2 linked regions of the Homo sapiens genome follow. The protein of the gene in region 1 purifies or fractionates together with the protein of each later gene. This does not show direct contact. Each region holds a gene or a part of one and is shown on either strand. Other genes may lie near its edges. The genes, in order: TMEM238 and TRDN.

Region 1 (3,314 bases):
TGGATGGACGGGTGAATGGACAGATGGGTGGGTGGGTGGATGGGTGAATACATGGGTTGGTTGATGCAGGGATGTGGTTGGATTGACGGATGGATGGGTTGTTTAATGGGTAGATATGGGTAGGTGGTGAATTGGGCAATGAACCATGAATGGATATGGTTGGAGAGGGAGCCCTGCCTGATAAAGGGGCAAGAGCTTTTCCTGATACTTCTCTGTGTCCTCGGCCTCACCCATGCAGCATGGTACTGGGGAGGCCTCAGAGACTCCTACTGAACAAAAGAAATGAGGGTGCCTGTGTCACCTCCCCAGGGCACCTTAACTTGCGGTTACACCTGGGAACTCCTTGGGGCAGGGGCCTCGGCTGGTCCATAGGACTATCCATAGGACAGTCAGAGTTTGCCCAGCCTCTGTGCGCTCTCTGGATAGATAGGTAGATGGGTGAATGGGTAGTTGAATAGATGGTTGGGGCTGAATGATAAGTACACAGATGAGTGGATGAATGCATTTAATGGCACATGGATGGTTGGGTGACTGAATTCATCTCTCAAATAGGGTTTTGGTAAAAGAATTAAACCCTATTATCCTAGGACGTTCTATGTAGGTAAATAATTAACTTTTTTTTTTTTTTTTTTTTTTTTTGAGATGGAGTTACACTCTTGTTGTCCAGGCTGGAGTGCAGTGGCGCAATCTCGGCTCACTGCAACCTCTGCCTCCCGCGTTCAAGCAATTCTCTTGCCTCAGCTTCCCGAGTAGCTGGGATTACAGGCATGCACCCCCACACCTGGCTAATTTTGTATTTTTAGTAGAGACGGGGTTTCTCCATGTTGGTCAGGCTGGTCTCAAACTCCCGATCTCGGGTGATCCGCCCACCTCGGCCACCCAAAGTGCTGGGATTACAGGCGTGAACCACCGTGCCCGGCTGGAATTAACTTTTCTCCTATGCATCCAGAATGCTACCAGTTATATATTATTCTTTGTGAGATTTGGGGAAATAGTCACCCCAATCATATGCTACGTGCCGTGATTCAGTGAAGGAACTGGGGTAAGAAAGCATGAACATCTGCTTGCACGGGTGAAGCGTAAGCTAACATGAAGCTTGGCATAGAATGCAAACATAAGCACCTGTAGTTACTGTTACCTTTGGAAATCCTGGCTGAGCACAGTGGCTCATGCCTGTAATCCCAGCACTTTGGGAGGCCGAGGTGGGAGAATTGCTTGCTTGAACCTGGGAGGCAAAGGCTGCAGTGAGCCAAGATCACGCCACTGCACTCCAGCCTGAGTGACAGAGTGAGAACCCGTCTCAAAAAAAGAAAGAAAAGAACATCCTTTATGAGGTTGGGCATGGTGGCTCATGCCTGTAATCCCAGCACTTTGGGAGGCCGAGGCGGGTGGATCACCTGAGGTCAGGAGTTCGAGACCAACCTGGCAACCATGGTGAAACCCTGTCTCTACTAAAAATACAAAAATTAGCCAGGCATGGTGGCGGACGCCTGTAATCCCAGCTACTAGGGAGGCTGAGGCAGGAGAATCACTTGAATCTGGGAGGCGGAGGTTGCAGTGAACCAAGATCGTGCCACTGCACTCCAGCTTGGGCAACAGAGCAAGACTCCATCTCAAAAAAAGAAAAGGAGAGGAGAGGAGGGGAGGGGAGGGGAGGAGGGGGGAAGGGGGAGGGGAGGGGGAAGCAGGGAGGGAAGGGGGGAAGGGAGGGGAGGGGGAAGGGGGAAGGGGGAGGGGACGGGCAAGGGGGGAGGGGAGGGGGGAAGGGGGGAGGGGAGGGGAGGGGAGGAGAGGAGAATCCTTTACGTAGCTTAAACGTCTAACACAGCTGCACAGGCCTCCACTCTTGGAGCCTCCACCAAAGACTCAGACCACACTGACTCGAACGTAGGCCCCACTTAGAGGAAAATGGGCCTGTTCAAACCCAGGACTCTTGTTTACTGGGGAGAGTGAGCAGCTTCCAGCGCATGAAAGACAGAGAACCTGAATTTTAGCAGAGGGACCCACAGGTTCTGGCTCTGGTACCCCCACAACCTCCGAGACCACCATGAGTAGCCGGGCAGAGCCACCCCCATCACTCTGTTGTTCAGGCTGGAGAGCAGTGGTGCAATCACAGCTCACTGCAGCCTCCACCTCCTGGGCTCAAGCAATCCTCCCACCTCAGCCTCCCAAGGAACTGGGACTACAGGTACCAGAGACGGGGTCTTCCTATGTTACCCAGGCTGGTGTCAAACTCCTGGGCTCAAGTGATCCTCCTGCCTGCAGCCAAAATGCTGGGGTGAGGGTCTGAGATGAGGACCACGATGCCCGGCCTCCTTCTGTCTTCACTGTGTCTGCCTGTCTCCCTCTCTCTCACTCTTTGTCTCTGTGTCTCTGTCTCCCAGGTCTCTTTCTTTGTCCCTGTGCTTCTGCCTTTCCCCTTCTGCATGTCTTCGTCTCCCCCTTTCTGCCTCTCCCTGGCTCGCATTCCCTGGCCTCTACCCTTGGATTTCAGGGCGTTAAAGGTACACACGCATGCACACACTCAGCAAATGGGGGCATGCAGGGATGAAGGAGCAAGTGTGTGAGTCCATGTGAGCGGCAAGGGCAGGCGGATGGGGCTCCCTGCCTCTGCCCCCGCAGGCAGAGAGCCCGGAACAGGGATGGGAGGGGTTCCTGAGCAGTCGCTCACTCCACCCTCCCTCCTGCAGACAACCCCTTGGCTCCAGCTGTCAGGACCAGACTGAGATGTGCAGCTGCCCCTACATCCGTGGCCAGACGGACGCTCCCTGTACCCCCTCCCTCCTCACTTGGATAAAAAGCAGATTTGCCTTAGTGCTGCATGTCTGTCTGGGAGAGGGACCCTGCTGGGGTGGGAATGGAGACGAGGTGGCTTGCTTCCTTCTAGCACCCAGGTGGGCCTGGCCACACCTGAGGTGAGGCTGCCCCTGCCCTGGGGAGACCAGGAGCCCTGGGGATATAGGAGCCTAGCCTTATGCTGGCCCCTTCTCAGAGGGGGCCAGAGAGGGGGCGGGGGATAAGGATCTTAGCCCAGACCCTCCACTCTAAGCCCCAACATCCCTGTGTGAGTTTGGGTTCACTGAGAAGCAGACACAGAGACAAACTGGACTTGCAAGATATGTCTTGGGGAAACACTTTTGTAGGGTAGCTTGGTGCAGGGAGAGGGAGGGAGGGATGGGTAGGACTAGTCTTAGACTGTACCGCACCTCCAAGAAAATTGCCACTGGCCCCTGGGGAGCTGGGAGCTGAAGTCATCGTCCATGAGGGAGGCCCCTGCCCTTCGAGAAGGCACCTGTACCCGGAACCCCCACCCC
Region 2 (3,829 bases), on another chromosome or scaffold:
CTAAGATACCTATGCTGAAAAAAACATATATTTTTTAACTTTGCTTTAAGACTTTTGGGTTTTCGCTCTCTCTCTTTCTCTCCCTCCCTTTTTCTTTCTCTCTGAGTGTGTGCATGTTTGCGTGTGTGTGTGTGTGTGTGTGTGTGTGTCTGTCTGTCTGTCACTGCGTCTGGCCCTGGTTTTAACTTTAACTTTGGGTCTTTATGAATAATTAAGGGAATTAAAATTTATATTTCTAAAAAATAGATATCATTACTATTATTCACATTTTCATATGCTTTCAGTTCAATTTATTAATAACATCATATAAAGATTTACCCTCTTCTTTATCAAATATACAATGCCCCAACTATTCTAGCTTATTTACTGCCTTATTTGATCATGTATTCATTAAATTTTTAACTGTGGTATTTGCAGGACATTTTACTAAGTAAGGTGATCTTTTACACCTTTGCAATTACGTAAGCTATAAAATAACATGTTGCATTGATCCTGATGCTAGCAATACCACATCAAAACTCCATTACTGTCATTTACTATTTTATTTAATAAATGTTCATCATTAGTCTTTGGGAATGTGGTAAGCAAATAGTACATGTTCTCTTCCACCAGCTCATTGCTTGGCTCATAGAAAACACTTGAAAAAGATTAATTGAAAAAAATACATTTGTTGATTGAGTTTAATCCCAGAAGGCATAAAACATGTCCGAATTCTGTATTAGTGATTAGCTAAGGATATACATTGTACCGTCGTGAATCTTAGACCTCTGTGCTTTGCTCTCACTCAGAAACCTAGGAGTTACCCAGAAAGCAAAATGTTTATTTTCTATTACAATCATGCTCAATTTTTTCCCTTTTATATTTCTTAGAAATTTTGCAAAACTCTGCATCCCTTCCTACAAGTTCTAAAATTTTTCATCATAAGTTGAAGGATTACAAGTGATATAATTTATAGATTATTGTAAATGTTGACATTTAAAAATAAAGTTGCCATATCCCTTTTAAAAACTGAGTTGATGGACTCCAAACACTATAATATTTTTAGATGTCATTATCAACTTAAAATATTTATCAAAAAATTATTTCTTAACATTTGGAAGGTTTTCATCTTTCTCTTTTCTCTTTGAATTCATATTTTCATTCCACCTCTCTCACGAAAATTTTACCCAAGAGCTACATTATGATTCTCTAAGGAAAAAAGTGTACATATTGAAAATTTTAAATTTCCTCCATATTCTGTGATTTCACATCCTGTAATATATTAACCTTTAGACTATAAGAATCTAAGAATCTAAAGGTTAATATATTGCAAATCTTCATAAGTTATTATTAAACCTGAAAAATGAATTTTTTTTAGAATGCCATCGAATGAATGGAGCTTTAAAATCACCTATCTGTGGATTAATGTATTTTACAGTTAGAATGAGACAGCGTTCATCAATAAATCTAACCCTATATTTTACTTTTAAAGATACAAGTATTGAGAAGCCTTATGCACATCTGTACATACACACACACACACACACACACACACACACACACACACACACACACAGTCTTATTGGGGCAATGTTACTTAATTTTTTTGTCTCCTTCCAAGTAACGTTGAATACCACAAAGAACCAACAACAGATTTATTTATATTTGAAGTGGAAATAGTACGGTTATAAACCGGGCATGCTCTCAAGCAGATCAATTTTAGGAAAACATTCAAATGACATTCAATTCCTTTAAATCTCTCTGCAGTTTTATACCCCTTAGAAAGTGAGGTGCTAACAGATCCATGATGTATACCCTGGTGTGAAAAATATTGCTTAAAAGCACACTTCCAGATGTGCAAAGTATACCACTATACACAACAAATAATTTTTTCCGAAAATGTGATTTATAACAGTATTTGGTTTTCATACTTATAATTTTTAGACAACTATGTAATAAAATATAGTATTTTCTAAAGATTCAGTGCCTTGGGGTCTCATCATGAAGTGTTTAGTAATAGAACTTAGTATTTTAAAATTTTGACAAGTTGAAAAATATGCATGAAGAATATAAAGACACTAGGTACTACATGTAATACCCTGAAGCTATATTTATATATAACAACAGATTCCACAGGCTAGCAGAATCAAATATTTCATCCATATTAATAATCTGTTTAATAATCAATACTGCAACCCTGAGATTAGTCGACTACACCATTATTCCATACCAAATTAAAAACTGCAAACTTCAACCATAAATAACAAACTGGCTGAATTTTTATTTTGTTAAGAATAGCAGTAACTCAACAAATAAAACTAAGTGTATTCAAATAAAATGTTTTAGGTAGATATAGGGCAGTTGAATAAAAAAATGCTACAGCCTGATAATTTAGGCAATAAAAAATGACTAAATATTATTGAATATATATGAATTGAGAAGGGTATTAATGAAGAGTCATTTAGATGTGTAAAAATCAAATGTTTTAAAAGACTATCATTCTACATTGCCCCCAAATTCCTTCTTAAACCAACATTTGTAAATGTAAACATGAGTAAAATAACTTATAAGACAAGAATAATTTATAGAATTTCTCCCCAATAATAATGTTAAAAGTATACTTAAAATGTAGAATATGTATTATAAATGTTTTATAAAATATTACCTACTGCTTTAAAGCTCTCATTGCCTCTATACTTCCATGAAAGAAAAGCTTACACATAAAAAATAATAATTACAATGAAATAGATCTTCTTGAATTCACTTTCAACTAAGGTTTATTATTACATAGCCTCTGTACCCAAGATAGAGCATCTGAGATTTTTACTTAAATGTCAATTTTTTTCATGTAACTGTGTGAATAATACTATTAAGAAAATATATTCAGGTGATTTAAAGTCAATTCTCCTAATTCTGAGTATGTAATCTTTAAGGACATTAGTGCACATGTGTTGAAGGACATATATCCCTTAGACTATTTTTGACTAATAAACATTTCTAACATTTTTTAAAAGTACCCTAAACAACTATTTAATAGTTTTTCTGGCAAAAATTTGATTTGCTGAATCAAGGAAATAATTTAAGAAACAATAGTAAAACAGCTTTGTATGAATTTGCAGTTTATACTAATTACTATATGAAGCTTAATTTTAAAATAATTTCAAAGAAAAATTTAAATCAAAAGAAAAGATTTTTTATTAAATAGTAAATATCAATTTATGAAAAACATGGCTTTATAATAGTCTTATGGAATTCAGTTTATAAGTATAAATGAGCAAACATTATTTATCTGTTTTCCCTTCTTCCATTTCCAATGAAAATAAACGTGCATAAGCTGTTATTTCCAGATAATGACTAATAACTCACTTAAAGCTTGACTATGTTCACTCTCTATGGGAAATCAGCTATAAATCTCTTGAAGTTTATAGACAAATCTAGAATCTCTAAACCTGGATTTGATGGCTGAAGTCTGTCTTGAGTACTTGAGTTCTCATTCTGGATTTGCAGGTGTATAAACCCTTCCTTTCTCCTCACAGAGCTTTATAAACACTTTCATTTCTGGATGCCTTTGCCATAGTTGAGTTTGACTGGCTTAGCTCTTTTTTGCTGTGTAAGTTACAAATCCAAAGTTTCTAATTTAACATACACTAAGTGGATTTTACCCCAGATAGTGTGGGGTAGTCATCATTTTCTCAGGGAAGGCTGAAACTGTAAGTTTGGATCCCATTGTTTGAATCCACAGTAGGTATTAGGAGAGAGCAACAGAAGCCAGGGTTATCTTCCTGGGTAAACCCTCAACAGCCTGCCCATGTGTAGCAGTAACTAAAACACTGCAATTGTTTTAAGTCTG

Evidence for each region.
Region 2: the proteins of TMEM238 (region 1) and TRDN purify together in Homo sapiens (co-immunoprecipitation; one large-scale study listed by IntAct). This does not show direct contact.

Annotation. Positions count from the first base shown.
Region 1 is NC_000019.10:55,378,744-55,382,057, reverse strand, and holds the end of TMEM238 (transmembrane protein 238), read left to right. Parts: intron 1-2,690; 3' UTR 2,691-2,814; downstream 2,815-3,314.
Region 2 is NC_000006.12:123,542,739-123,546,567, forward strand, and holds part of TRDN (triadin), read right to left. Parts: intron 1-3,829. UniProt on the Homo sapiens protein: Contributes to the regulation of lumenal Ca2+ release via the sarcoplasmic reticulum calcium release channels RYR1 and RYR2, a key step in triggering skeletal and heart muscle contraction.